Linked DNA regions of Homo sapiens. The protein of the gene in region 1 interacts with the protein of each later gene in a biochemical or structural test. Each region holds a gene or a part of one and is shown in the gene's direction. Other genes may lie near its edges. The genes, in order: SKP2, WEE1, KPNA1, YWHAB, FOXO3, SIRT4 and SMAD4.

Region 1 (3,500 bases):
CGCCTTGCTGTAAGAAGAATGGACTGGACTCTTCCATTAAGAGGGAAGCATGGGCCAGGTGTGGTGGCTCACACCTGTAATCCCAGCACTTTGGGAGGCTAAGGTGGGCAGATCACCTGAGGTTGGGAGTTTGAGACCAGCCTGGCCAACATGGTGAAATCCTGTCTCTACTAAAAATACAAAAATTAGCTGGGTGTGGTGGCAGGCACCTGTAATCCCAGCTACTCAGGAGGCTGAGGCAGGAGAATCGCTTGAACCCGGGAGGCGGAGGTTGCCATGAGCTGAGACCACAACATTGCACTCCAGCCTAGGTGACAAGAGCAAAACTCCATCTGAAAAAAAAATAAAAAAAGGGAAGGATGGTGGAGAGAGTTGTTCTGAGAATGGAAGGAACAAGTCAAGAGTTGAAATTTAGGAAATTAACTTGCCAGGTACCATGGAGGGTCCATCGAGGATAGAAGAAGCTAGAGTAGTTAAGGATACTGCTGTGTTCGTTCAAGTGAGAAAAGGTGAAGTCTGATATAAAACAGATAGCAGTAATAGCAGCTAATGTTTTGGGGCATGTATTATGTGCCAGATAGTGAATTTTGTAAATGCATTTTCATTTAATTCTGACAGCAACCCTATGAAGTGTGATCTTGTTTCCTTTTTATAGTTGTGGAAACTGAGACACAGGGAGACTGAGTAAGTCTTTTCCAGGGTCACATTGTTAGTAGGTGGCTGAACCAACATGTGAACCTAGTGATACAATATTCCAGAATTCTTACTCTTAATCACTAAGTTTTACTAACACAGGGCATTTGGGGATGTATTAGAGAAGATGGCAAATTTGAGAGATGTATAATCAAAAGAACCTGGTGATTTTACAAGTAGATGTTTGCAAGCTAATTCTAATTATGGGTGAAATGGATATATGTTTATTCCATTGTCTTTTTAATTCAAAAAGTACATTGATTGATATTCTTGTGTATTTGCTTCATAGTAAGTCTTTTATTACATTATATCATTTAATCTTCTTAATAACTCTGCCAAGAAGTTTGATAATACCATTTCACAAATGAGTAAACTGAGGCAAATTATCCTGTTTGATGTCTGAGAGATAGTGATATACATTTTAAACTCACTGACTCAAAGACCTGTGAGCTTAACTACACTCGCCTGCTTTCATCTAAATGTTGTTGATGAATAGTGTCTTACTGGTCTTTTTCTTCTGACGTTTTTCTCTTTTTCCAGTACTCTCGCAAAAAACTCAAATTTAGTGCGACTTAACCTTTCTGGGTGTTCTGGATTCTCTGAATTTGCCCTGCAGACTTTGCTAAGCAGCTGTTCCAGGTATGAAAGATGTGAGACTTGATTATAGACTCTTATGTCAAACGTAAAATTATCCCTCACATCTGTATAAAATGGGATGAACTTTTTGAGCTTTTTGTACTTTCCAGGCTCTTGATTTGGTGAATGCAAAATCTTTTGCCCTCCTAACTTTCTGTCCAAACTCAGGAGCCAAGTCAATTGAGTTTGCAAGTGATACTTGTATAGTGATCTCTTTTTTGTTTATTTGGAACTGTTAAAATAAGGGAAGTGTAGTAGTGTCTATCAACAGTATGGTTGTAAGAAATTTGCTCACACTTAACTGTACATTCAGGTTTTTTCCCCTATGGTATCTGTAGACCTAACTTACAATTTTTTATCAAATTTGGTGTTTTATAAATATAGACCGTAAATTTGGGCAATTCTATTAACAATATCTTTCATAATAATGTCAGCACATAAAGGGTACAGAGTTACAGATATTGCTAAGTGAGGGGAGTACATGCTTTTTGGAATACACAGTACTAGGCATATGTGTGTTTTTTAAAAATATCCCTTGGTCTCCATGGTACAGCATTTGAATCTGTGTCTTGTTAATGGTCCATTTAAAATAGATTGCCTCTGGATATGCGTGTTATCAGTGAGATCAAATGTATAGCCCTATATTTAGTCAGCAGTGCCAGAAGTGGGGAGTGGGGATTAATGGTTGTATTTTGTCTCTGAAACCCTCGTTTTTGCTCAGTTAGCAGAAGCACAGTAAGACGAAGTGGCTTTTTGCAATATCAGCATCTCTTTATTAGGAATCCTCAGTGCAATCCATCAATTGCGTAAAACATCCTGAGTGATTGTTCAGTCTGTGTTGGGTGGTTGGTAGTTTGAGAAAGCAAACATAAAAGACTGGCATTTCTACCTGCAGTACTGGAATAAGGTTTGAGCCATCAGGTGCTTCTCTCCATTTCGAGGAGGAGGCACATTCACTAAGGCCCTTCTGATCCCCTGGCAACTTTCAGGGGCAAACAGGGTATACTTAGGTGACTAAAGGTAGCTACTGTTAGAGAAGCAGGTGTTCTGTGCATGAAATGATAAGGAATCCATGGTTTTATATTTTCTTTGTTTGCAGTTTGAGGCAAACTCATTCCCGTGTGATGGTTTCATATTTTGTTTATTACCCCTCTTTTGTGCAGACTGGATGAGCTGAACCTCTCCTGGTGTTTTGATTTCACTGAAAAGCATGTACAGGTGGCTGTTGCGCATGTGTCAGAGACCATCACCCAGCTGAATCTTAGCGGCTACAGAAAGAATCTCCAGAAATCAGGTTAGAGCTTCCAAGCCTGGACCACTGAGGCCTTCACAACATAATAGATGAGATTCATTGAGCTTCTCCTAATCATTCCTCCACATAAGTTTTCTCATTTAATCCAGTGCATGTGTTAGTCCCCTTTTTCAGATGAGGTAGCTGCTAATCAGAATGGTTAGGTAAAGGTAAACAGCTAGTGAGCTAGAGCCAAGGTTTGAATTCAGGATCTAACAGTAGAAACCTTTACACTTGAAAACAATGTATTTTTAAGCAGAAAAACTTTTAATCAACTAAATGGTTAGGTAAACCCCAACATAAAAATACATAAATGTAGCATTTGATTAGTATTAAGTAGTGGTTGTTCATTAGGGGCTATTTTGTCTGTACGGGGACATTTGTCAATGTCTGGAGACATTTTTTATTGTCACAGCTGTAGGAGTGCTGATGGTCTCTCATGGGCGGAAGCCAGGATGCTGGTGGACGGTGTATAGGATGGAGAATAGCATGCACAATAATCTGGTCCAAACATCAGTTCCAAGGTTGAAAAACTATTATAAACTCTGTTAATAAGTTCATATTTATGACTTTTACTTTTTATTCAGTCCAAGAGGGCAACGAGGATTTTTAGATGAAAACAGGCATTAGAAGTCAAAGGTAGCAGGGAGCAGTCTTTAAAAACCTTAATATTCAGTTACGCTTTATTTTACTTGTATGTTAATGAGAAAATCTTGATTTGCAAAGATAAGTGATTACAAATGGCAAGTTTTTTAAATGGCTTCACCGTCTCAGGCCAACATTCAGTTTGTGGGCTCTACAAAACCTAGTTAAACCAGCAACACACATCAACCATATCTTGATGTTAGTACTAGCTTATTTGAGTGTGTTTTGTTTATTA
Region 2 (3,500 bases), on another chromosome or scaffold:
CAGGTATGCTCATGCATTGACAATGGGCATATATATTGGTACAGCCTTCTCTGTGGAGAAGAGTGTGTGTGTGTGTGTGTGTGTGTGTGTAAAACACACCATCTCCATATATTACAAATGTGCATACCCTTTAACCCAGCAATTTGGCTTCTAGGTGATATACTAAATGTACGTGAAATTACCAATGTACAAGGTTATTTATTAGGCCATAGTATGTAATAGCAAAGGCTTGGAAATAATTTTAAAATGTCCATCAAATGAGGGACTGATAAATGCATTTCTTTCTTTCTTTCTTTTTTTTTTTTTTTTTCGGGGGACTGAGTCTCACTCTGCCACCAGGCTGGAGTGCAATGGCCCGATATCGGCTCACTGCAACCTCCGCCTCCCAGGTTCAAGCAATTCTCCTGCCTTCTGAGTAGCTGGGATTACAGGTGCACGCCACCACACCCAGCTAATTTTTGTATTTTTAGTAGAAACGGGGTTTCGCCATGTTGGCCTGCATGGTCTCGAACTCCTGACCTCGTGATCTACCTGCCTCGGCCTCCCATAGTGCTGGGATTACAGGCGTGAGCCACTGTGCCCAGCCAATAAATGCATTTCTACTCAATTATACAATGGAATTCTATAAAGACAAGAAGAAATGGGTTGTCTTTGTATATTGGTATAGAGTGATCTTTAAGATAATGAACATATGCTGTTATTTATGCAAAAAGTTGAAAAGAATACATAGACCTGAGCTGGGCGTGGTGGCAGTGCCTGTAGTCCCAGCTGCTTGGGAGTCTGAAGCAGGGAATTTGAATTTGGGTTTGGGAATTCTAGGCTGTAGTGCCGATCTATGTTGAGCATCTATGCCGATCTATGCCGATCTAAGTTGAGCATCAGTATGGTGACCTCTGTGGAGTGGGGCACCACCAGGTTGCCTAAAGAGGGGTAAACTGGCCTAAGTTGGAAACAGCACAAGTCAAAACTCCTATGCTGATAAGTAGTGGGATCAAGCCTGTGAATAGCCACTGGATTCCAGCTGGGCAACATAGATAGACCCTGTCTCTTATAAATTAAAAACAAAAACAAACAAAAAAAAAGCCAACCTGATAATACTGGTTTACTCTGAGAAAGAAACAGGTGGATTGCTGAGGTGTATGATTGAGAGAGAGACTTTACATTTTATTTTGTACCCATGCAAATGTATTACCTATTGAAAAAACAATAAAATTTTGATTTCACAAGCAGGTTGAAGGGAGAAGGTCCTATAAAATAACACTTTCTTGGTTGAGATTGGTTGGTTGAGACTCATTTGGTAAAGATGGAAGAAAGAAAATATTTCAGAAAGAAGAAAATGCTAATATTTTCTATCTTTGTTAGGTGGAAGTTTAGCTGATGCTATAAGTGAAAACTACAGAATCATGAGTTACTTTAAAGAAGCAGAGTTGAAGGATCTCCTTTTGCAAGTTGGCCGAGGCTTGAGGTATATTCATTCAATGTCTTTGGTTCACATGGATATAAAACCTAGTAAGTATTGCAGATCTTCTGACCTGTGTTCTTTGGGGTTATAGAGAATAAATTACTTCATTATGACAACATTGAAAAAATATATATCTTCTGTTTTCTCATTGTTAGTTTTAAAAGGCCTTAGATCCACTTACCAATATTGTTTTATGATTTCTATTCATCTCTTCCCTTGTTAATCCCCAAAATTTGAGATAAACTTTTTTGAGACAGTGTCTCATTCTGTGGCCCAGGCCGGAATGCAGTGGCACCATCTCCGCTCACTGCAACTTCCCCATCCCGTGCTCAAGCAGTCATCCCACCTCAGTCTTCCGAGTAGCCGGGACTATAGGCATGTGCCACCATGCCCAGATAAATTCATTTTTATTAAAAGCCAGAAATTTTTGCTGCATCTTACAGGAACTACAGGTGGGATACTAATGAGGGCACTAAAAATCTGTGTTTAAAGCCCCACTCTTCCACTAGGCCAGACCATATTAAAATTTCCCCAGTTGACTCAAGTCCTTAATAGTTGATTTGTTCAAATTAGTATCTACTTAAGGATCATGCATTGCATCTGGTTATATCAGTTTTTCTTTTTCAGAACCCATCCTCTGCTTTGTAAAAATAATATACACTTATCTTGCAAGCTATCCCTTTTTCTGGATTTGACTAGTTGCTTCTTGTATCATTTAGCTTGTTCCTTTTTCTCCTATATTTCCTATAAATTGGAAGTTATAACTAAGGATTATGGATTCAAGTTAAGCATCTTAGGCTAGATGAATTTAGTGAGGTTTTATTAATCTTTGGAAACCTGTTGATTTGTGAGAATTTCAGTCATTTTGTACAACTTTATGAGTTATATGCTAGAATTTCATATGCGTATGTTAACAAGTCACTAAAGTTTCTTCTTTCTTTTTTTCTTTTTTTGAGATGGAGTCTCGCTCTGTTGCCCAGGCTGGAGTGCAGTGGCACAGTCTCAGCTCTCTGTAACCTCTGCCTCCCACGTTCAAGCGATTCTCCTGCCTCCGCCTCCCGAGTAGCTGGGATTACAGGCATACACCACCATGCCCGGCTAATTTTTTGTATTTTTAGTAGAGACGGGTTTCACCATGTTGGCTAAGCTGGTCTTGAACTATTGACCTTGTGATCTGCCCACCATGGCCTCCCAAAGTGCTGAGATTACAGGCGTAAGCCACCGTGCCCAGCATGTTTTTTATTTTCAAAAGACAAAAATATATTTGGATTTAAGGCAGTAAATGTGAATTCTTAAGGAATAGCTGTACTCATATAAAGTGTTAGACAAATATAATAGACCCTTATAAGGTATAAAAGTTGAAAATATTAAGGGATGTGAAGTTTAAAAATCTTCAAATTTAGACCAGGTGCAGTGGCTGACGCCTGTAATCCCAGCACTCTGGCAGGCCAAGGCAGGCAGATCACGAGGCAGGAGTTCGAGACCAGCCTGGCCAATATGATGAAACCCCGTCTCTACTAAAATTACAAAAATTAGCCAGGTGTAGTGGTGCGCACCTATAGTCCTAGTTACTCGGGAGGCTGAGGCAGAAGAATTGCTTGAACCCGGGAGGCGGAGGTTGCAGTGAGCCGAGATTGCACCATTGCACTCCATCCTAGGCAACAAAGTGAGACTCCGTCTCAAAAAAAGAAAAAAAAAATTCGCCGGGCGTGGTGCCTCACGCCTGTAATCCCAGCACTTTGGGAGGCTGAGGCGGGTGGATTGCCTAAGCTTGGGAGTTCACCACCAGCCTGGACAACACGGTGAAACCTCGTCTCTACTAAAATACAAAAAATTAGCTGGGTGTGGTGGCAGGCACCTGTAGTCCCAGCTACTCTGGAGGCTGAGGCAGGAGAATTGCTTGAACCCGGGAGGAGGAAGTTGAAGTGAGCTGAGATCGCACCACTGCACTCCAGCCTGGGCGACAGAGCGAGACTGTCTCAAAAAAAAAAAAAAAAAACCTTCCAATTTACAAATACCATCACAAAATAAGTTGTCC
Region 3 (3,500 bases), on another chromosome or scaffold:
GTGTTTTAGCACAGTGTTTGTTGAATTAATGATAAAATAGAGTTTTAATGATTTATGATGTCTGTGCTTTTAAGTCTACCAGATTGTTTTTAGATGTATGAGTACTGTGTATAAAATCAGTTAAGACCTTTGATTGGTCTTGCAAGTAAAGATGACTGACCTAGTGATAAAGATAACTCCTTGTTTTGTTTTAAGGTATCTTTGTACTTTGCATGGTGTTATGAATTTAGCCATAATAGGGAAGAAAACACTGGAAATGGTAAACAGTTAAATTAGCTGATTTGGGCTGATTTCTGTCTTTTGCTGCAGTAAGCAGGAGATGGCCTGAGGCCAACTGAGGGCCAGATAGGGCCTGCATTAGAAAATTTTGAGGTTGTACATTGGAAGAGTAGGGATGAAGACTGTGGGAATGTATGTTTCTTTCTTTCTTTTTTTTAAAGATGTTACAAACCTACAAAACAACATGAAAAAATGGTTCTGTCCAAGTGTTGTAGACTAATTGGGACAGTTCTTGAAAGCAGGCAGTAATCCAGAATGTGGATAATGGAGATAATCTCCTTCATATTAACAAGAATAATGCTGCCCTTCATATACAAAGATAAGTCTGCTTACTCATCATGATTGTTTTTCCAGCGTGAGGAGGGATATGTGCTGAGTCCATGAGTGCCTATATACTCTGTGAGCAACAAGGCAGGTTGGGGTCAGAATAGGCAGCTTGGGGTCAGAATAGGCAGCTTGGGGTCAGCTAGGGAACAGAAAGACCCGCTGAAAGTACTCTGACATCTATTGATGGGTCAGGTTCTGCATCAGGTGCTTTCACTTACTTGTTCTTGCAAAACCATTTTGAGGAGGTGATTACGTGTGCAAGGTGATTGGGTAACTCGCCTTACTTCACAAAGTAGTGGAGTTGGGATTCAAATAGGGCTGTTTGTACTGTGTTCACATTGATCGTTAAAGATTGGTTTTAGCCGTTCAGTCTCTTTGGCAGAACAAACTAGATGTAGTTTAACACCATGAAATAATACTGAAGATCTAATATAACCGTCGTGAGATTGTTCAAGTTCCTTGTTTTATCAACATTAAAAAAATAAAATTTTGGAATTAGAATACCTGAAAAGCAGCTGTTCCCTGTCCCAGCCTCTGCACTTGAAAAGCTACCATTTTCTTTCTTCTAGCTGTTTCCTCTTGTGTTTGCTTTCATATTTATAAATACAGTGACTTGCTTTTATTGCTATATCATGATATAGCAATTATAGATATTATTGGCTTTCGTCTAAGCAAGATGTTCCTTAGTGTTTCACATATATATTCACCTCACCTGCCATATGCACACACTGTCTCTACCATCCTCCAAATATAGTTATCACAGGTGTGTCTACTAAACCAATATTTAGTGTTTACAATATTGTAACTCTATAAATGTTCACAGCTGACCCATGTAGAGTACTGTGATATCATTTCTTCTCTTAATAAATTTTTGTTTTTCTACAAGTTAGTATTTTTTGTTGTTGTTTGCTTCATTTCCTGAGACAGCTAACCTGGAACCTCTTAATGCAATTAGGACTGGTTACTTTCTAGGCCTATTTCATAGTTGTTATCCAGGGACTTCTCTTTTCATCATCCTTAAACTTCTTTGCCCTCTTTTGTACTGGTTCCCCTGTTTACTGTTTCCTGTATTTTCTTTCTTGGTTTACTTATTTCCTTGGAGTACATTTTTTAGTAGCTTTCTGAGAAAGGATACATGGAAAACAAAAACTTCCTGACATCTTACATGACTGAAAAAAATCTTTATTCTTCCTTCGCATTTGATCAGTAATTTGTCTGGGTATAAAATTCTGAGTTGAAAGTAACTTCTACTTCAAGTTTGCAAGTCATAGTTCTATTGTTTTCTTTCTTCCAGGGTTACTCTTGAAATCCAAAGCCAATCTGATTCTTTGTTTGTATGTGATCTTCCTTTACCCCAATCTCTAGAAGCTTTTAGGATATTTTTAACCCTCAAAATTCCATGATGATGTGTCTAGGTATGGGTATTTTTTTGTTTAAGGGCATTCCATGGACCTTTATAAGCTGGGAGTTCATGTCCTTTAGTTCTCGAAAGTTTTTGTTATTATTTGGATGTTAGGCAAAAAGAATTTTAGAATGAATTATGCTTCTCAGTTCTTGTCACACATCAGATCGTACAAGGTCCTTTAAATTTTTATCTTAAATTTCTGAGCCCTACTTCTGTTACCTCTTTGTATAACATTGTGGTTGGTACATTCCTTGATTATATATGAAACATTGTAAAATATGTAGTGGAGCTGTGTATGTTTAGGTATTGTGTTATAGACCTTGCAAAGGTCTTTTTCTTTTTTATTCAACATTGATTTGGGGATCTTTCTGTTTTGTTGTAAGTATGTATAGTTGTGTCTAATGTAGAATTCTGTAATGCAGATCTACCACATTTTACTTTTCATTCCCTAGGAATTGATCCCTGAGTTGCCTTTCTGCTATTTCAAATACCCTGTGTTATATATACTCTTGTACATTATTATAGACCTGTATAGAAGTTCTCTAGGATATATACCCAAGATTGTGATTCCTTGGGCATAGAGTGGGAGAATTAGTGTATGTGCCTACTTGAGTGCTTGAGAGTTCTTTTTTGCTCACATGTTTGCCTTTACTTGGTTTTATCTTTCTTTTTTTTTTTTTTGTTTGATAGAGAGTCTTGTTCAGTTGCCCAAGTGAGTGCAGTGGCATGATCTTGGCTCACCGCAACCTCTGCCTCCTGGGCTTAAGCCATTGTTCTGACTCAGCCTCACGAGTAGCTGGGTTTACAGGGGCCCGCCACTACGCCTGGCTAATTTTTGTATTTTTAGTAGATACGGGGTTTCACCATGTTGGCCAGGCTGGTCTTGAACTCCTGACCTCAAGTGATCCACCCTCCTCGGCTTCCCAAAGTGCTGGGATTACAGGCGTGAGCTACCGCGTCCAGCCTCTCATTCTTATTTTATAGTATATTTGTGTTGTTTCATAGATGCTGTATTCTTTCTGGGGATATTAATGATAGTTTTAAAAATTTTGTTACCATTGTTGTCTTTTCTTTATTGAGGCTTTCCCCAGATGTCTGGTAGTCTTGTGGCTGTCCATTCATATTTAAGAATGAAGTGCCAAAAACTGAATTGGAAGCTCTATTAAGTGTGGCTTGTTGAAGGGTGAAGAGAGTAGCTGGTGGCCATTTTTTTTGTGGTGGGTGGAGGGCATATACTCATAGGTTTGTTTCTCTTGGGCTAGTCAGTTTCCCTGAGAGTCTCCAGTCTCTTGCCAGGAGAATGTGTGTCTGGCTGCCATGTTTTGAGAACTCATTTTAGAAAAGGAGCTTGGGTTTTTACTGTTGTGCTCATGTAATTCTGTTATCAATAAGGCACCTCACCCCCACCCTCACCTGCATTGGAGCACCCATTTGAAGGGATTACTGAAGGATGGTTGTCTGGTTGTGAAGAGTGGAGGAGGAAATCTGG
Region 4 (3,164 bases), on another chromosome or scaffold:
GTCTACAAAGAATATTAAAACGACTGCCGCCCCCTGCATCTTCTCACTTTGGTTGATTAAATCCCCTTATAACTAAGCTTTGCATTGAGCTTCTCTTTTTATTAGACTCATGGCGTAAGAGTGTCATGACTAAATTTGTTGCCTGTTGGTAATTTGGGGGTTTGTTAATGGTGCACTAATTCCTGAATGTTAGGTACATCTGGTATTCAGATGAAGTATGTCATGCATTCCAAGGGCAAGAAAGTTCCATAATTCATGAAATGTAGACCAACTTTTAAGAGCATCTGAAAGAATGTGAAGAAGAGCTTGGTACTTACTGCCTCTTAACCAGTTTTTCAGGATGCCACATTCTAAAACAACTCTTCGAAAATATTGCTCTGTATACGAAGCTTGGACTCCTTCAGAACTACTTTTGTTGTAAGCATAAATGTTTAAAGGAATTTATTATTAATAGTATTAGCTACTCTTTGAGTGCTTACTACGTGCCAGGCAACGTGTTAAGCGCTTTATGTATGTCAACTTATTTATCATTATAACTACCCTAGAAGATGGCTATACCCTAGAAGATGACCCTTCGTATAGCTGAGGAAAGTGAGGCTCAAAGTGATTAGGTAATTTGTCCAGAGTCATACAGATAATAAGTGGCAGAAGAGGGATTTCTACCCAGGTCAGATTGACTTTAAACTTAGTTCTTGGCAGTTTTGCTCTATTATCACCTTTTTCCTCCTAAGGAAAGATATTTTTTCCCCTTTAATTATAGAAGTAATACCAGTTTGTGGGTTTAAAAATGGTGGGGGGAACAAGTCAGAAGAATATAAATAAGAAAGTAAAAATCACTTCTAATCTTACCACCCAGAGAACCATTATTAACATACTCCTTCCAGGCTTTTCCCTTATATATTTGTGAGCATGTACACAAATGTATCTTAATGTTAAAATAGGATTCTTGTGGTATTTATAATCTGCTTTTTTTCCACTCAGATTTCTTTTGAGAGCCTTTCCATTATCTGTTTAGCTCTGCATCATTTTAAAGGCCTACAAAACATTTCATTATATGGCTATACTTTAATTATCCCCTATGGATGGTCAAAGTGATTTTTAACAGAAGAATACAGGCATCTGCTGTTATGACCTGGGCTAAACAACATTTAGTAGCTTGGATGAAAAATTGGTGTTTTTTTAATCTTCCAAAAAATTATTTAGAAGCAGTAGTGTATATCTTGAATCTCAAACATAGTTTTAACATCTCGTGAATAATTCTAAATTCTTAACAATGTTCATTTTTTAGGAGCTGTTGGACAAATATCTTATTCCCAATGCTACACAACCAGAAAGTAAGGTGTTCTACTTGAAAATGAAAGGAGATTATTTTAGGTATCTTTCTGAAGTGGCATCTGGAGACAACAAACAAAGTAAGTAATATCTTTAAAAAGAAATTCGACCAGTAATGGAGCCAGTCTTCTTTCACAGGGACTTTTTAACGATTTTTGCTTTGTTCGCCATAGACACCAATGTCACAGTACTAAGAATTTAAAAGACCACAGCATTGTGACGAACGGGGTCATGGGCGGGCAAATAAAAATTTATCTGACAGGGAAGTATGGAGGGCATTACAAACCTGGTGCGCAGTGTATTTAAAAAGATCTTATCTTGAGTATTATTTGTTAGCTCTCTTTTTAGCAGTGAACTTTTTATACTTGGTGGTACGAAACTACCCTAGTGATGCATTGCATTTATCACATGTATTACCGTGATGGTGGTAATCTTAACCACACTTTATTAAGTGCTTCTGTGCCAAGTACTTCCGAGTCTCACTTACTCTTCACACAGCCTTACGAGTTAGGTGGCAGGCTGCCCATTTTTCATATAAACTGAGGTTTATGGAGGTTTCTACTTGCCCCAAGCCACAGACCTAGGGAGTAAGAGTTGGGAATTAAAGTTTGGATCTATCGACTCTAAAGCCTGTGATGTTTGCACTAGAATGTATGGTTTTTCACATTCTATATTGTTAAAGGTTATAGCTGTATTTAACTGCTTTAGTAGACTTTGTCATAATTGTTTTCCCCCAAAGCATTTAATATACAACTTGGTTTAGAATAAATATCTAACAAATGTATAATTGAATGGCAGAGACACTGACACTTCATTTGATAGGTCATTGCTCCTGCCCAGTTTGGGACTGAGAAAATAATTTGATAGTTGGTCCAATGTGTGATACCTATGAAAGAACCGAGCCTTTAATATTTTCATCTTTATGTTACAGCCACTGTGTCGAACTCCCAGCAGGCTTACCAGGAAGCATTTGAAATTAGTAAGAAAGAAATGCAGCCTACACACCCAATTCGTCTTGGTCTGGCACTAAATTTCTCAGTCTTTTACTATGAGATTCTAAACTCTCCTGAAAAGGCCTGTAGCCTGGCAAAAACGGTGAGAAAGACCCTTTGTGATATCTAACCATAGCAAAACAGTGCTTGTGTTATTAACTTCATTTTATTCCTGAACATACTCATTGTCTTGGACTTTTTTTGAAAGATTTTCTGGGGGTGGGAGTGTATCTTTTATGAGATAAATACAGATCTGTTACTTTTTTAATTCATTCTCAATACCTTCTGCTGACTTTGTTTGATTACTGTTTTTTGCGGGTGGTTGTAGAAAGTTCCAGGTGAATGTAGTTAGTTGTTTCTTACCAAGCTTTGGGCCTTGGTTATACATTGTCATTCTCATGCCAAGATTTGAGGTTATAGTTGTATAAAAGAAATACACAGCACATTCTTGTTGTGTGTTGGATTACCTTCCATATTCTTCCTTTGGCCTTCTCTACATATTTTTTATAGTCCCTCAACATGCACACAACTTTTTAAAAACATTTTTATTCGGGAAAGGTGCCTTAAAGTTCCGTCACTTAAATCAGATTTAGTGATGTGAGTTTCCAGACATTTTGAGTTTTAGTTTAAATAAATAAATAATTTTAAATAGAAGATTGCTAGAAAAGTCTTTGGTAATTAAAAAATCACACGCGTTTGCCCAGAATGACTGTGCTAGGGTTAGCAGTAATACTGCTTAGTTATTAGGTACAGCAAAGTTCTTACCTTGGAGTTTCTGTCATTGTTGGTTGGTGCTTTGTAAATATGCCTTATACTTCTGCTGGAAACAGCTAACAGACA
Region 5 (3,500 bases), on another chromosome or scaffold:
TATTCTAGACTCTTTCATATATGAATATTTCTAACAGAAGCAAAATCTGTTAATTATTCTTTATCTTAGTACTAAGCATCTTTATTAGCTAGCACTCAAGAGCTAAACCTTTAAAAAAGTAAGAGGCCAGGCACAGTGTCTCACGCCTATAATCCCACAACTATGGGAGACTGAAGCAGGAATTGCTTGAGGCTAGGAGTCAGAGACCAGCATGGGCAACATAGCAAGACTCTGTCTCTACAGAAAACTTAAAAAATTAGCTGGGTGTGGTGACACATACCTGTAGCCCCTGCTTCTCAGGAGAATCCCTTGTGCCCAGGAGTTTGAGGCTGCAGTGAGTCATGATCGTGCCACTGCACTCCATCCTGGGTGGTAAAGCAAGAACCTATCTCTTAGAAAAAAAAAAAAAAAAAGCCAAAAAATTAATTTGAAAACACAGGTGTTTGTATGAGGGAGTACTTACTCGTGTGCTTCTGCTTGTTCACCAAACTATAAATGATATCAGCAGTTTCCAAACATAGAGTGACACAGGTTGTGAATGGTGATGGAGATTTTTTCAATTGTGGCATTTTAATGTTCTCAGAACCACAAAGATCAGGCAGTGTGATGTAAGAAAAAGCATTTGATTGAAATCAGGAATTGAGGTTCAGGCCCACTTCTACCACTTTCTTGCTACCACTATGGTTGTGTCTTAGGTCTCTGAGTCTCAACTTCCAGTTTTATAAAATGAGGATAATAGCCCCCATTACTTCACAGGGTTATTACAAGAATCAAATGCACTAAAGCATGTGAAACTGCAGTAGGCTGAAATATGTACCATGCAACTAGGTATACTGACAAATGGGCAAGCAGGTAGCCCAGAGAGGTTAAGTAGTTTGCCCAAGGTTACAGAGCTAGGTTGATTTCTTTTTTTTTCTTTTTCTTTTTCTTTTTTTTTGAGATGGAGTCTTGCTCTGTCTCCCAGGCTGGAGTACAGTGGCGCGATCTCGGCTCACTGCAAGCTCCACCTTCCAGGTTCACGCCATTCTCCTGCCTCAGCCTCCTGAGTAGCTGGGACTACAGGCGCCCGCCACCACGCCTGGCTAATTTTTTTTTTTTTTTAATTTTTAGTAGAGATGGGGTTTCACTGTGTTCACCAGGATGGTCTCGATCTCCTGACCTTGTGATCCGCCCGCCTCAGCCTCCCAAAGTGCTGGGATTACAGGCGTGAGCCACCGTGCCCGGCCTAGATTCATTTCTTAAATGGCTTGAACCCCCATAGTAGTTCTTCCTTATTCTCTCTAGCTGGTTAGAAAAAAAGCGGGGAGGGGAGGGAAGTGCCCTGAACTGGAGTCAAAGTAGCAGATGATAGACAAGCTTTCCCTAAAAACTCTCCTCCTCAAGAAGTAAGATGAACACTGGGATCTTCTACCAACAGGTTTGCACCCCTAGCCACCTCGATGTTAACAGGTTCTGTTCCGTGCCCCAGCCCTTTTGCTTTGTTTTGTTTTAGTCTCAGCAAGCTACTTACAGGCTTCTTTAAGTGGTGTAAAAAGCAAGGGAATTCAAAGCTGTAAAAACTTGAGCCTTGTTTAACCCTCTGCCATGATGAAGGACTTAACAAGGGTCTCCTATGGTGAGCTCACTCCAGCTCACGGGTGGTTGCAGAAAGGGGAATGTTAAGAGTGTTGTGATGCTAAAGCCTCTCAACTTTCTCAGGCCTAAGAGACCCCTAATGGAACTCAGATATCTGATTTCAGTCATTTAATAGCCCTTGAGATGGTGAAAAGACTGTAATGGAAGCTAAGTAGGGTGGTAGTACTTCCATGCCAGCCAGCTCAGTTCCATACCAGAACTTGGGCTAGTGGAGATTTGACTTCAGAAATGTAGATATTTGGCCTTTAGAAGACTAGTTTGTCTTCCTTTAAGGAGAAGAATATGGAAGATTTGTCTTTAGAAATGTAGATGTTTGGCTTTTAAAAGAATAAATGGTTTGTCTTCCTTTAAAAATAGGCTTTTAAAGACACAAGTAAGTTTTAATTTGAGTGTAATTGTAAGGAGGCCACTTTCTAGTTCGTTGGAAAATATGTGTTCAGAAGACAATGTAGTATCAGTTTTTGTCTGATTTTTCAAGTGTTGGTTTCCCTTTTGGTTGAACAGCAGATCTTTCTCGTATATGTGTAATTCTAAAGGATTGTACAGAAAATTAAGGGAGATCTAAATACTTAGATTTTTAAAGTTTATCTGGTGAACTCTGATTTTGGTGATGATAATAAATGACTGCATTGAGGATAATGCATTTCATTGTTATATCCTAATGAAGCTTTAGGGTCATCTTCGCCTCAGAATATTTTGGGGGAGGTTGTTTTGAGAAGATAACTTCTTCAGCTAAAAATGAAAAGTCACCAAATTTTCCTGAAAGTAGACTAGCTCAGTATGACCACAGAGCATTTAAAGAACCATCCAAAGGACAGTGGGGGCTGTGAGGGGATCTAGTTTCTGGTTTAGGATTTCCATTTTTGCTTAGAATCCATTGTTCTTTCAGCAGCCAGGAGCACATGCAACCTGAAGTGTATTTTTTACTTTAAAACTTAACTGTGACTGTCACTTCATTGAAGACTCTCCTAAATTCACAGAACGAGGCTGAGGTCAGACTCTGACACCCTGCTTCTCTCAAATTAACTGTCCCAGCTTCCCAAGAGTTGCTCTCTAATAACTTTCTTGGTTTAACTTCTTAGTGTTTCTCCAGACTGAATTCCTGGCTTGCTCACAGAAGAAGGTCATGTGATGCTGAATCTGAGCCGCCTTGTGTTAATGGAGCGGTCTGCTCAGTTGACAGGCAGTCTTGCTGGGGAGCTGCAGCAAGATGCTTCTCTGGCGGGCTGGGTGTTTCACACGTCATTCATTTTAGACCACGTGTAGAATTCTTTGACCCTTAGGTCTATCTGGAAAAGAAAAAATAGCCATACTTTTTTGGAGGGCTGGCTGCTGGGTCGTGAAGGGCACTGTGTTCTCTCAGGTGTTCATAAAGCTTGGTGCATGTGCTTACAGTTGGTGGCAGAGATGGTCATGAGCTGGTGTGGTGCTGCAAGCTCGAGCTTCCGGTAAGCCTTCTTGAGTTCGACATGTGTCCTCTCTGAGGGAAACCAGCTTCAGTCTCACCTTAATTTGATATCAAAGATGCCTGCATTCACAAACTTTCATTCATCTTCATCTTTTGACATTTGGAGACACCATTAGGGAGCAGCCCAATATTTAGTTTAAAGTACTTTACATAAAGACTGGGAAGCATCCACCAGCAAAAGCCCAGATGGAGAGGGGAGGGGTGGTTCACTTCTTGTCTCTGCCACATCACTCAATCTTGTAGAATATTAGGTTTCTCATTTGTCAAAAGAAGACAGCCTCATCAAGTTTTAAAGGTGCATAGTATGTATAATTTTAAACTTGAAGACCGGGCGCAGTGGCTCACGCTTGTAATCCCAGCACTTTGGGAGGCCGAGACGGGTGGATCATGAGGTCAG
Region 6 (3,500 bases), on another chromosome or scaffold:
TAGACTAAGGTGGTATCCAGGGAATTTGAGTTAATGATGCTTATGGATTCATTAAAACAATTTTTTCCGCCGGGCGTGGTGGCTCATGCCTGTCATCTCAGCACTTTGGGATGCCGAAGCGGGTGGATAACCTGAGGTCGGGAGTCAAGACCAGCCTGACCAACATGGAGAAACCCTGTCACTACTAAAAGTACAAGAACAACAAAAAATTAGCCGGGCATGGTGGCACATGCCTGTAATCCCAGCTACTCGGGAGGCTGAGGCAGGAGAATCGCTTGAACCTGGGAGGCGGAGGTTGCGGTGAGCCAAGACTGTTGTGCCATTGCCCTCCAGCCTGGGCGACAAGAGTGAAACTCTGTCTCAAAAAAAACTCACAATTTTTTTCATGAAGAAAATCTGTTCTTTTAATAATGAAAATTTCAAACTTCACAAAAGTAAAGAGAATTGTATAATGAATTCTCATATACCATCACCCAGATTCCAAGGTTTTATCAAGATTTTGTCATGTCTACTTTATCCATTCTGTCTCTTCTTAAGCATTTTAAAACAATCCAGGACTTCTTGACATTTCACAGGGGCCTTTTTTTCTTTTCTTTTTTTTTTTTTTTTGAGACAGAGTCTCACTCTGTCGCCTAGGCTGGAGAGCAGTGGTGAGATCTTGGCTCACTGCAACCTCCACCTCCCGGGTTCAACCGATTCTCCTGCCTCAGCCTCCTGAGTAGCTGGGATTACAGGCATGCACCACCATGCCCGGCTAATTTTTGTATTTTTGGTAGAGACTGGGTTTCACCGTGTTGGGCCAGGCTGGTCTCAAACTCCTGACCTCAGGTGATCTGCCTGCCTTGGCCTCCCAAAGTGCTGGGATTACAGGCATGAGCCACTGTGCCCGCTTTCTTTTTTTTTTTTTTTTTTTGAGATGAAGTCTTGCTCTGTCACCTAGGCTGGAGTACAATGGCATGATCTTGGCTCACTGTAACCTCTACATCCTGGGTTCAAGCAATTCTCCTGTCTCAACCTCCTGAGTAGCTGGAATTACAGGTGTGCACCACCACACCCGGCTAATTTTTTTGTATTTTTGTAGAGACAGGGTATCACCATGTTGGCCAGGCGGGTCTCAAACTCCTGACCTCAACTGATCCACCCATCTTGGCCTCCCAAATTGCTGGGATTACAGGTGTGAGTCACCGTGCCCGGCCTGGCCTTTTTTTCTTTTTTAGACAGGGTCTGGTTCTGACACCCAGGCTAGAGTGCAATGGTGCCATCATAACTCCCTGTAACCTAGAACTCCTGGGTAATTAGAACTCCAGCTAATTAAAAAATTTTTTTTGGCTAGGCGTGGTGGCTCACGTCTGTAGTCTCAGCACTTTGGGAGGCCGAGGTGGGCAGATCACAAAAATTAGCTGGGCGTGGTGGCAGGCGCCTGTAATCCCAGCTGCTCGGGAGGCTGAGGCAGGAGAATCGCTTAAGCCCAGGAGGCGGAGGTTGCAGTGAGCCGAGATCGCGCCATTGCACTCCAGCCTGGGCGACAGAGCAAGACCCCGTCTCAAAAAACAAAGACAAGCCAAAAAAATTTTTTTTGTAGAGAGAGCGTCTTGCTGTCTACCCAGACTGGTCTGGAACTCCTGAGCTCAAGCGATTCTCTTGCTTTACGCTCCCAAAGTGCTGGGATTACAAGGTGTGAGCCACCATGCCTGGCCACAGGGGTTCTTTTAAGAGAAGAAAATCAACATAATCTGATGGCTGACTAGAACTAAAAGGAGAAAAATGAGGCTGGTTGTGGTGGCTCACACCTGTAGTCCCAGCACTTTGGAAGACTAAGGCAGGAGGATTGCTTGAGCCTAGGAGTTCGAGGCTGCAGTGAGCTATGATCATGCCACTGCACTCCAGGTAAGAGCCACCACGCCTGGCCAAGACCCTGTCTCTTTTTTTTTTTTGAGACGGAGTCTCGCTCGTTGCCCAGGCTGGAGTGCAGTGGTGCTATCTCGGCTCACTGCAAGCTCCGCCTCCCGGGTTCACGCCATTCTCCTGCCTCAGCCTCCCGAGTAGCTGGGACTACAGGCGCCCGCCACCACGGCCGGCTAATTTTTTGTATTTTTAGTAGAGATGGGGTTTCACCGTGTTAGCCAGGATGGTCTCGATCTCCTGACCTCGTGATCCGCCCGCCTCGGCCTCCCAAAGTGTTGGGATTACAGGCGTGAGCCACCACGCCCAGCCTGACCCTGTCTCTTAAAAAAAAAAAAAAAAAAAAAAAAAATAGGCCGGGCGCAGTGGCTCATGCCTGTAATCCCAGCATTTTGGGAGGCCAAGGCGGGCAGACCACCTGAGGTCAAGAGTTCGAGACCAGCCTCAACATGGAGAAACCCCGTCTCTACTAAAAATACAAAATTAGCCGGGCGTGGTGGTGCATGCCTGTAATCCCAGCTACTCGGGAGGCTGAGGCAGGAGAATTGCTTGAACCTGGGAGGCAGAGGTTGCGGTGAGCCAAGATCGCGCCATTGCACTCCAGCCTGGGCAACAAGAGTGAAACTCCGTCTCAAAAAAATAAAAAATAAAATAAAAAAATAAAAACAGACACAAAGTGCTCTCCCTCACTGGCTCAAGCTCTGGTGATTGGAGAGGTGAGAAGGGGGGCCAGGTGCAGTGGCTCACACCTGTAATCCCAGCACTTTGGGAGGCCAAGGCAGGCGGATCACCTGAGGTCGGGAGTTTGAGACCAGCCTTACCAACATGGAGAAACCCCGTCTCTACTAAAAATACAAAAAAAATTAGTCGGGTGTGGTAGAGCCTGCCTGTAATCCCGGCTACTCAGGAGGCTGAGGCAGGAGAATCGCTTGAGACCAGGAGGTGGAGGTTGCGGTGAGCCAAGATCATGCCATTGCACTCCAACCTGGGCAATGAGAGTGAAACTTGCTCTCAAAAAAAAAAAAAAAAAAAAAAAAAAAAAGAGGTGAGAAGAGAACCAGGAGACACTGTGTCCTGGAAACCAAGAAGGAGAAGCATTTTAGAAGGAATGGTAATAGACAGTGGCAAATTCAGCAGATGAGCAAGGGAAAGTATAGAGGGAAAAACGCAGGTTTGGGCATTAAGGAAATCAGCAGGCAAGGCATTTGCAGTCATGTTAAGGATAAAAGTGAGCTATAGCAGAAGGTTAGGAAGGAGTGTATAGGAAGGAAATTGATGGGCTGGGCGCAGTGGCTCACACCTGTAATCCCAGCACTTTGGGAGGCCAAGGAGGGAGGATCACTTGAGGCCAGGAGTTTGAGACCAGCCTGGGCGACACAGTGAAACACCGTCTCTACCAAAACTACAAAAATTAGCTGGGCGAGATGGCGCGTGTTTGTAGTGCAGTCCCTGCCACTCAGGAGGATGAGGTGGGAGGATAACCTGAGCCCAGGAGGTTGAGGCTGCAGTGAGCTGAGATCGTGCCACTGCATTCCAGCCTGGGCAACAGCCAGACCCTGTCTCCAAAAATAAAAAAAATAAAATAGAAAGTATGGCTA
Region 7 (3,500 bases), on another chromosome or scaffold:
TTTCCGTTTGGTTCTAAACCTATAGGGGACATTACATTCAGTACACTTCATTTTTAAAGAATATGTTGCTTAACAATAATTCTAGATCCTGGGATTGGATATCTATCAGATCCCACTCATATCTCCACAGTGTGAAATTAACAAAAAGATATAGTTAAATACTCAGTCTCTATTTAGACCGAATAATTGTTTTTCTCAGCTGGACACATTTTCCAGCCATTCGGTTTTTGCCTGCCTTATGTATTTAGGTGATTATTCTTCTAGGTTTATCAAGAAACTGAGGAGTACCTTTTTAGGATTGTTGCTGGAGGCTGTTGAAACATAGACTAGCTTCAAATTTGAGAGTCAGATTGATTGATAAAATATATCTCATGCTGTTACCGCTGAATAAATGACTTTTGCTGGTAAAGTAGTATGCTTTTAAAATAATATGAAAAAATTCTGAATTAAGGTTAGTAATTTACACTGTAATTGATTTTAGGTGTTATTATATTACTTGCTAATAAGATTTTTTTTTCTGGGAATAGAAGCTTATAAAAATTTAAAATATGTTTAATTTTCTATATAGCTCCATCAAGTATGATGGTGAAGGATGAATATGTGCATGACTTTGAGGGACAGCCATCGTTGTCCACTGAAGGACATTCAATTCAAACCATCCAGCATCCACCAAGTAATCGTGCATCGACAGAGACATACAGCACCCCAGCTCTGTTAGCCCCATCTGAGTCTAATGCTACCAGCACTGCCAACTTTCCCAACATTCCTGTGGCTTCCACAAGTGAGTTCTAGAATCAGATGTAGTCAGCAAGTTGAGTTTTCCTAATCATTGCTTATTTATGTGTAGTCACTTGGGGGGAAACTCCAAGTAAGTAAACATTAAAAGTAACTGTAGTATCTTTCATAGGTAAACAGGTATTAAACAGGTATGCACAATCACTTGGAATTTAAGTAATGGCTTTGATTATAATATTGATTTAAATTAATGATCTGATTTATACTTTACTATTACATGTAGCAGTAAGTAGCCTCTTAAGCTCCCAGATATATTTTGGAGAAATATTTAAATAATTAACAAGTAGTTTTGATCCAAGATGTTTATGAAGGTCTGTGTTAATGGAATTGCAACCTTTCTTTTAATGCGGTGTTCTTATTTTGGTTTTTCTGGGACAATATTACCTTATAGTAGTTGTCTGATTTTCTCACTGTGCAAAGGGATCTTGACAAATTTGTTATATATTGCTCAAGATAGACATTAATTAAGTCAATTTTGATATAAGCTAACTTCTATATCTCTTTTTAAAATATATGTGTAATTAAAAAAAAAAAGTGTTTCAGAAAGATCCTTCTTTTCTGCCATGTCATAGGAGGGAGAGGGGCTGCTAGGTTCAGGTTTTTGGGGGCATGATCATATGACCTGGTTCTGTTACTTATTTTCACAGTAACCAAAGGTTTGATAGTTTGCTGCTTGGCAAATGAAGTAGCTTTTTTTTCATTTTTTTTTTTTCAATTAATCATAGAGCATTGTCTTGGCATGTGTATGGTGTTAGTTGCATGCAGTTGCTAAAGGAATTTATGTAAACCCACATCAGAATAGATTTTTGACAGCTCTGGGCTAATACTGTGTTAGTTGCTACCGAAAGTACCATTATTGTATTTGCTTTACTATCAGATTAGATTCAACATAGAAATTTTGATCTTTGGAATAAATGGGGGACTGATTTCTGTAATTGTGAGTTTTCAAGTGAAGTATACCAGAATTTCCCCTTTAATTCATTACACCACTTCAAAGCAACATGTTTTTGGTTTGCTATCTAAGAGATGACAGTCTCACTATAGGCAGCATATTCTAAATGGGTCATATAGGTTAAGCACTTGAGAACCCAGTTCCTTAATCACTTGGTGCTTCTATTATCTGTCTACTTTTTATTTACCAAATTAGGAATATGGTTGACAAACAGTGGGTAGTGATAGAAAATAAAAGAAGGTACATTATAGCCACTTGAACGTAGATTAGTGCTAGAGCACAGCTACCTACTTCTGTTTATATTATCTGGAGATTGAATTTCTGTGCCTTTGTCAATGCTTACTAAAGTGACTTCATTTTGACTGTGTTGTTTCCTGAGGTTGAATCCTATTCAAAGATTAGAAAAAGTGATAGAAATGAAATGCAGCTAATTTTATCCTGGTATTTATTGGGTAGATTTTAATAATCGAATACCGTAAATACTGTAAGTTTTAGAACTTGTGTCAAAATGTTCCCTTATGTGGTGGCATGCGCCTGTAGTCCCAGCTGCTCCGGGGGCTGAGGCAGGAGAAATGGCGTGAACCCGGGAGGCGGAGCTTGCAGTGAGCAGAGAGCGAGTCACTGCACTCCAGCCTGGGCGACACAGCGAGACTCCATCTCCAAAAAAAAAAAAAAAAAAAAAAAAGAGGGTTCCCTTAGGTCTCAAAAAGTATATTGATGAAAAGAAGTTGAACTAAAATAGAAGATTTGAAAGGCTATTTTACGTGAGCTGATTTAGTCGTATTGTTTAACTTTATTTTACATACTTAGAATTGTATAAGGGAAGTATTCAGTATGGATAACTACAGTGAGTCACTTTACAATTTATGTTCTTTTGACACCTGAATATTTTAAGAATTTCCTTTTAAATACCTGTAAATTAAAATAATTTATCCTGTGTAGTTAATGACAATTTTTGTAAGTTAGCTAAGAGTATTGCCTGTAGAATTGTTAAAAATATGAACAAAACCATAATTAACCTTTAAAGATAACTTGCAGAATCTGGGGGATGAGTAGGAAGGGAGGTTGCTAAAATGTCATTTTTACAGATAAATAATTTGGGGAGTATTGAAATATTCTCTTTAGCTTTTGGTTTTGTAATTCTTAGCTTTAAGGAAATGTGATATGTAAAGAAAAGAAAAATATTCCTTTTCTTTGATACTTTGAGCAATGGTGACATGTTACTCTCTTCCATCTGATTATACTCCCATTTAGAAAAGAATGAGGTGATGCCAGTTATAAATAATTATAACTTTAGTGCTTTCCAAATAGGATTAACAGTCGAGTTAATTAATGCTCTTTAAGAAACCAAATTTCCACTTTAAAAAAAAAGCCTTAAAAATGTAGGACAGTAAGCAATATCATAGGATGGTTTTTGAATAGAATACAAGCCAAGAGAAGCTTGATTCTCTTGGTATATTACATACAGAGAGGGCAATTAATTTCTTGTACATCTGGGAATATGATGGTGTTCTTGAAAAGAAATGATTCTTGGTTTATAAAAGCTCTTGAAAAAATTTGAAAGTAGACTGATAGTTTTTTTGTTTGTTTTTAACCAGTAAATGGTATATTGATTGGACAGCAGAGCTAGATCTTTTTAACTTCCTCATCTTCACTATCACATCCTATTTAAAATAATTTTCTGCTCTGCTTTTCTCTGTCAAACCCTAGCATTCTGCCATTACTAGTATCAGTGCTGATAGTGATTAATTTT

What was found.
Region 2: the proteins of SKP2 (region 1) and WEE1 form a complex in vitro, tested with the Homo sapiens proteins (one study listed by BioGRID).
Region 3: the proteins of SKP2 (region 1) and KPNA1 interact in a test that uses a peptide from one of them, tested with the Homo sapiens proteins (one study listed by BioGRID).
Region 4: the proteins of SKP2 (region 1) and YWHAB form a complex in vitro, tested with the Homo sapiens proteins (one study listed by BioGRID).
Region 5: of the proteins of SKP2 (region 1) and FOXO3, one has a biochemical effect on the other in vitro, tested with the Homo sapiens proteins (one study listed by BioGRID).
Region 6: the proteins of SKP2 (region 1) and SIRT4 form a complex in vitro, tested with the Homo sapiens proteins (one study listed by BioGRID).
Region 7: the proteins of SKP2 (region 1) and SMAD4 form a complex in vitro, tested with the Homo sapiens proteins (one study listed by BioGRID).

Annotation. Positions count from the first base shown.
Region 1 is NC_000005.10:36,169,111-36,172,610, forward strand, and holds part of SKP2 (S-phase kinase-associated protein 2), read left to right. Parts: intron 1-1,233; coding exon 1,234-1,332; intron 1,333-2,492; coding exon 2,493-2,623; intron 2,624-3,500. UniProt on the Homo sapiens protein: Substrate recognition component of a SCF (SKP1-CUL1-F-box protein) E3 ubiquitin-protein ligase complex which mediates the ubiquitination and subsequent proteasomal degradation of target proteins involved in cell cycle progression, signal transduction and transcription.
Region 2 is NC_000011.10:9,580,170-9,583,669, forward strand, and holds part of WEE1 (wee1-like protein kinase), read left to right. Parts: intron 1-1,362; coding exon 1,363-1,509; intron 1,510-3,500. UniProt on the Homo sapiens protein: Acts as a negative regulator of entry into mitosis (G2 to M transition) by protecting the nucleus from cytoplasmically activated cyclin B1-complexed CDK1 before the onset of mitosis by mediating phosphorylation of CDK1 on 'Tyr-15'.
Region 3 is NC_000003.12:122,508,440-122,511,939, reverse strand, and holds part of KPNA1 (importin subunit alpha-5), read left to right. Parts: intron 1-3,500. UniProt on the Homo sapiens protein: Functions in nuclear protein import as an adapter protein for nuclear receptor KPNB1. Binds specifically and directly to substrates containing either a simple or bipartite NLS motif.
Region 4 is NC_000020.11:44,902,705-44,905,868, forward strand, and holds part of YWHAB (14-3-3 protein beta/alpha), read left to right. Parts: intron 1-193; coding exon of another isoform or gene 194-214; exon of another isoform or gene 215-1,288; coding exon 1,289-1,412; intron 1,413-2,263; coding exon 2,264-2,427; intron 2,428-3,164. UniProt on the Homo sapiens protein: Adapter protein implicated in the regulation of a large spectrum of both general and specialized signaling pathways. Binds to a large number of partners, usually by recognition of a phosphoserine or phosphothreonine motif.
Region 5 is NC_000006.12:108,665,417-108,668,916, forward strand, and holds part of FOXO3 (forkhead box protein O3), read left to right. Parts: intron 1-3,500. UniProt on the Homo sapiens protein: Transcriptional activator that recognizes and binds to the DNA sequence 5'-[AG]TAAA[TC]A-3' and regulates different processes, such as apoptosis and autophagy.
Region 6 is NC_000012.12:120,308,821-120,312,320, forward strand, and holds part of SIRT4 (NAD-dependent protein lipoamidase sirtuin-4, mitochondrial), read left to right. Parts: intron 1-3,500. UniProt on the Homo sapiens protein: Acts as a NAD-dependent protein lipoamidase, biotinylase, deacetylase and ADP-ribosyl transferase. Catalyzes more efficiently removal of lipoyl- and biotinyl- than acetyl-lysine modifications.
Region 7 is NC_000018.10:51,054,213-51,057,712, forward strand, and holds part of SMAD4 (mothers against decapentaplegic homolog 4), read left to right. Parts: intron 1-568; coding exon 569-781; intron 782-3,500. UniProt on the Homo sapiens protein: In muscle physiology, plays a central role in the balance between atrophy and hypertrophy. When recruited by MSTN, promotes atrophy response via phosphorylated SMAD2/4.